2 separate regions of the Homo sapiens genome follow, and region 1 is linked to region 2. Evidence: fine-mapped QTL for protein levels in blood plasma. A gene starts in region 2. The other region holds a variant in brackets. All regions are shown on one strand. Distances are from middle to middle.

Region 1 (2,500 bases), 96 kb before region 2:
TGAAAGTAAGAAGTCATTCTTTGTAAACAAGGAATTTTTCCATAAAAGGTAGATGAGGAGCTTGTAACAAACTACTATCATGAGACACCCCAGTTTCTCCCAGTTTACCTAAACAAATGTTTATGTGTATATATACAAATGATGTGTATTTGAAGATTGATTAGAATTCTCATATAAATTTTCTCTAAGTTGTCCTTGTTTGAACCTAAATATTTACATAAGCAGATTCCAGGCATAAGAGTTGACTAATTTTAAGTTTTCTACAATTAAGTTGCCATTAAATTTGATACAGAAAAACCAAGATTTGGTAGACTCAACTACTTGATAATAAAAGTTTGCTAGAATTATGTGACACCAAGACATTCAATTAGACTTCTAAAGGTCATGACATAAGGCTATTTCAAAGAACATTTACTATCCACCCTTCCCACATCTCTTTCCCAAAGGATACTTCTGTGCATAATTAAATTATTCTCTGGAACTCAATACTGATTCTTTGGAGTGTCTCCCAAAGAAATTGTAGCTTTTTCCTTTTGGCCACTATTAAGATGAATCCAGTTTGTTCCCTTCTTTCTAGAAGCAACTGGCTTTAATTAGAAGAAAATTGTGGCTTTTCCAAACTAAACAGAACTCAATGCTATTTTTTCATAGTAAGTCACCAGTCACAAAACAATAACAAGTAACAAATCATTGAAATTTGAAAGATTGTGTCAGAGAGCAAACACCAGTTGCTTCAATAATGCGAAACAACTGGTTTGACTGAATTGTTTCCACTAAACTCACTAACCTAAATGGTGGTTATATAGACATGGTTTTAGACTTGACAGTTTTGTTTTTAGTAATCCAAAGCAAGCATGTATAAATGTGAATGTGACTGTTCCTTAAAATCAGGATATTCATATTTTTATTTTTATTACACGCCTTAAAAGTGGAACCCCATGGAAACACAGAACCACAAAGGTACAAGAGACCTTGGTGGTCATCTAATGCCCAACAACACATTTGTCATCCATACCAAAGCCACAAGTGCTGTTTCAACATCTACCTGGACACCTCCGATGATGAGGGGTTCGCTGCAGTATTGGGCACCCCTAACTATT[T/A]GAGAGTTCTTCCTCAAACTCAATCAAGTGCTACCTTTTGTGACTTCTACTCTCTCCTGGTTCTACCCTCTGGAATTAACTCAAACTGTCAACATTCTTTTTCATATGACACACCATCCTTGAGTTGTTCAAATGTCTACAACAACAACAGGAAAAAGGTTGCTACCATTGTGGCTCCTTTGCTGCAAGTGACTGTTTATCCCATTTTCCAGAATCTCTTCCATCAAGCTCTTGACCTGTCAGCAGATTTCCCCCCAACAAAACCAAGGATATGAATACTTCTCACTATTCCCTCCCTTTCCTTCTTACAGGTGTTTCTTCCAGGAAAAATAAAATAGAATGTCACTTTTCCTTGTGACATATTTTTCTGTGATAGAGGAGAGACTTACTTTTTAAGCACGTTTCAGAGATTTTGACCTTATTTTCACCTTTAGAGTCTTTTTTAAAATCTATTTTTAGATGAAATTCACATAACATAAAATATTAACCATTTTTAAATGAACAACAGTTCACCAGCACAATGTTGTGCAGCCATCCCATCTACCTAATTCCAAAACGTTCTCATCATCCCCAGAAGAATCAGTCTATTCTTAACATAATCTAGTCTTAATTTTCATAACAGCAGTCTTCCTCTGGTCCTCTGACTTTCGAATCATTTAAAAGTCTTTTAAAAATATATGCATGGATTTATTCAACGTTTTCCAAGGCTAGAGATCTGGGAGACATTTCTGAATAGCTCTTGCCAGGTGGTCTAATTATTTAAACATTTAATTATTTAAACAAAGCAAGATAGTTATAGCATGAGTAAAATGCCGTGCTTATATTTCAGGCTTCCCACAATTTGCAATTAACTAAAACAATGAATGTCTGTGTCCCCAGCTTGTGAATGTGACCCCGATGGGACCATATCTGGTGGCATTTGTGTGAGCCACTCTGATCCTGCCTTAGGGTCTGTGGCCGGCCAGTGCCTTTGTAAAGAGAACGTGGAAGGAGCCAAATGCGACCAGTGCAAACCCAACCACTACGGACTAAGCGCCACCGACCCCCTGGGCTGCCAGCGTAAGTCCATAATCGGGGGTCGGGGGAGTGTCCATCAACCCCTATGTGGTTGGTTGGTTTGTCTGTTTTTGAGATGGAGTCTCGCTCTGTCGCCCAGGCTGGAGTACAGTGGCAAAATCTCGGCTCACTCCAACCTCCACCTCCCAGGTTCAAGCAATTCTCCTTCCTCAGCCTCCCGAGTAGCTGGGATTACAGGCGACCACCACCACGCCCAGATAATTTTTGTATTTTTAATATAGACGGGGTTTCACCATGTTGGCCAGGCTGGTTTCAAACTCCTGACCTCAAGTGATCCGCCCACCTCGGCCCCTATGCGTTTTAAAGCTTGGGGCTGTCTCTGT
Region 2 (2,970 bases):
CACACACTCCTCCCCCTGCACATATACAGGCAAATTTTTAAAAACCTAATTTTCTCAGTAGTGTTCAATTTACTACTGCAAGTGAGGTGATCAGGAGAGCAGGTAGGCTTCTGAACAGTGCTGAAAGTAAATGACCTTTTGCAAGGGGAGAGGACGCTGAGCAGGGACAGGTAGCAAGGAGGGCTCAGCTGCTGTGAGAGCAGAGGTTAGGCTCAAGAAAGAAAAGGAGCTGAAAGATGCTTGCAGTGTGTGCACATGAAAATACGAAACTCTGGCCCAGGGTATTAAAAGCTCAACAGGAAGAAAAGACATTTGCCTTTTAATATTTTTCTTTTAATTAAGCCCTGAAGACCCTCCATTGCAATTCTACAGCCTCCCAACAGCAAGGACTTTCTCAGCGCTTTCAGGCTACCCAGCCGGCGCAGAGGATCCTAAGCCTCAGCAGAGGCAAAACCTCCCCAGGCTGTAGCAGGGCAAGTGCTGATTTGGTGAATAATTAATGCCTCACTCACCTAGACCCCAAGGCTCCCGCCTGCCTCAGACTCGTGCAGGCTTACGAACTCGTAAAGCAGCTGACTCTATGGTCTAATGATTAAACTTCTCTGGGCCTTATTTCGTTACAGCTAAGTTAAAAACTGACCAGCTAGCCGCTTAAACTCTTCTCCCGGAAATGACTGGAAAACAAGCCAAGTCTCCTGACTGGACTGACAACTAACTATACTCCCTGAATTCCAGCCACATTTGCCCAGAGCAGGACTCCAAGCTTTGACTCTGTCCATTGCTAAGGGTAGCAGAATGGGTGGTGGGGTCCCGTCACCAACCTCTTTTCCCTCTCCAACCCCTAGAAGGTGGTGAGTTTCTATGTACCCCTAATTTCACCAGGCAGGTTACACTGTGTTGTTAGAGACCCTTCATTAGAGGCCCTCTCCCCACCTCAGCATTTGCACACCATGGAGAATCGTCGAGATGAGCGTTGTGGGGAAGTGCCTCTCATGAGAGATTTCCACTTCCTGGCTGTGTCAACTCTTCCACGGCGAGATGGGAAACGGAGTCAGTAACAATAATAGTGTCATTTGAGGAATTACCTGAGCTAAAGCCATCATCTGGATATAGGTAGGAAGATTTTTTTTTTTTTTTGAGACGTAGTTTTGCTCTTGTTGCCCAGGCTGGAGTGCAATGGCACGATCCCGGTTCACGGCAACCTCCTTCTCCCAGGTTCAAGCGATTTTCGTGCCTCGGCCTCCCGAGTAGCTGGGATTACAGGCGCCCGCCACCACGCCCAGCTAATTTTTGTATTTTTAGTAGAGATGGAGTTGCACCATGTTGGAAGTAGATTTTTTAAAAACAGAACTGGACGTTCAATTCAATGCCGTGACCACCTGGGTAACAGGGATTACAGATAGGTCCTGAATAAATGTGTGCGCAAAGAATTGCAGGGCGCACAGAGCTTCTCCTCCTTCCTAGGAAGACACTGTAGATGTCGCGCCCATCCCAAGCTCTTGGATACTAGGGGCGGAGAGGAAGTGTCACTTTCTAAAGAACAAACACGACAGGTCGACCCTGTTTCTAAAGGGTTAACCCGCCTTCCCCGAGCGCACCGCACGAGAGTTTTAGCCGTGGGCACGTTTGGTGATTCACTTCTTGCGAACGTAAATGCGCGAGTCCGCGGTAGGTCCCGCCGGCCCCCTGGCTGGGCAACCTGAAAACCCACCTCGGAGACGCCCCCACGCATCCGCCCCCCTCGCTGGACGGCCCCGCCGCGCGCCGTTCTGGGACGCGCACCCCGGGGCGGACCCGCCCTGGGACCTGGAAGCGCCCCAGCCCCGCAGCGATCGCAGATTCGGCTTTCAAACAAAAGAGGCGCCCCGGGGGGTGGGACCGGGACCTCACCCGGTCCTCGCAGAGTTGCGGCCGCCCGCCCCTTCAGCCCCGGCTCTCCGTATGCGCATGAGCAGAGGCGCCTCCCTCTGTTCCTCCCAAGGCTAAACTTTCTAATTCCCTTCTTTGGGCTCGGGGGCTCCCGGAGCAGGGCGAGAGCTCGCGTCGCCGGGTGAGGAGAACAAAGTGGCTGCACGATTTTCCCCACTTTCCAGCCCACCCCCCGCTTCCGTGGGAGCGACAGGAAATGGAAGGGCGCCTCTTCTCTCTTTGAACATTTGCCTTTTTTCCCCTCCTTTCCACCTCTCCAGAAAGGAAGACGGGAAGAAAGGGCAGGCGGCTCGGCGGGCGTCTTCTCCACTCCTCTGCCGCGTCCCCGTGGCTGCAGGGAGCCGGCATGGGGCTTCTCCAGTTGCTAGCTTTCAGTTTCTTAGGTAATTCCGTGGAAACGGTGCGGGGAGGCGGACGGACTTGGGCATGGGGAAGGAAAACCCAAAAGCTGCTTGCTCACCTTCGTGGGATCCTGGGGGCTTGGGAGAGGGACTGGATGGAAATGACGCCCCTGGGATTAAACGCCACCGCCCTTGCTTCGGTGGTGGCTGGAGACAGCGCACGCGGAGCGCCGCGGACCCTCATCCCCCGGGCTCTGCGCCCAAGCCCCGGCCCCTGCGGCCTCCCGCGGCCCCCGCTCAGGGTTTTGCACCCTCGGCCGGTTCACCCTGGGTTTCCCCACCGCAGAGGGCAGGTTCCCTGGGGTTGGCGGTGCTGACCGAGGAGGGCTCTCCAAAAATCCATTGCCCAGGAGAGTGCCTGAGCTGAGCGGAGGCTTCATTCTGGGAACAGATGGGGGCCATGTGGCTTTAATTAACCATCTCTGTTTGTCTCCGGATGGCACCAGAAACAGCAGGACCTGGCGCTTCCCTGGAATGGAGAAGCCTTGAAACCACTCCAGAGCCCCAGGGACTGTCCATGGGCTCCCCTAGCTCCGGAAAGCGGCGTCCACCGCGAGCCCCGGCGCCTCGTCCCCAGCGAAGCGCCGGTGACCCTCGCGCGTGCACGCACACGCACTCTCGCTTCCCAAGCTCACAGATC

Which allele goes with the higher level. Alleles are on the strand shown, and positions count from the first base shown. The strength of an association depends on the size of the effect and on how common the allele is.
For the plasma level of the protein whose gene starts at base 2,000 in region 2, T is the high allele of the variant in region 1 and A is the other (strong association).

What was found. PIP is the chance, under the fine-mapping model, that this variant and not a neighbour inherited with it causes the effect. The UK Biobank Pharma Proteomics Project read protein levels with antibody pairs (Olink). The fine-mapping took linkage between variants from a reference panel, not from the people measured, so its PIPs are less certain.
Region 1: its variant is fine-mapped to the plasma level of the LAMB1 protein (UK Biobank, PIP above 0.99).

The regions. Positions count from the first base shown.
Region 1 is chr7:108,098,062-108,100,561 of GRCh38, reverse strand. LAMB4 (laminin subunit beta 4) reads left to right here. Exons shown (of 34, transcript NM_007356.3): 11 at 1,980-2,159. Among named protein-coding and RNA genes, the nearest start is that of LAMB4, 31 kb to the left of the region's middle. The variant T/A (reference allele first, on the strand shown) is at 1,101.
Region 2 is chr7:108,002,191-108,005,160 of GRCh38, reverse strand. It overlaps LAMB1 (laminin subunit beta 1), which reads left to right and starts at 2,000. Exons shown (of 34, transcript NM_002291.3): 1 at 2,000-2,050; 2 at 2,190-2,312. The coding sequence starts at 2,276.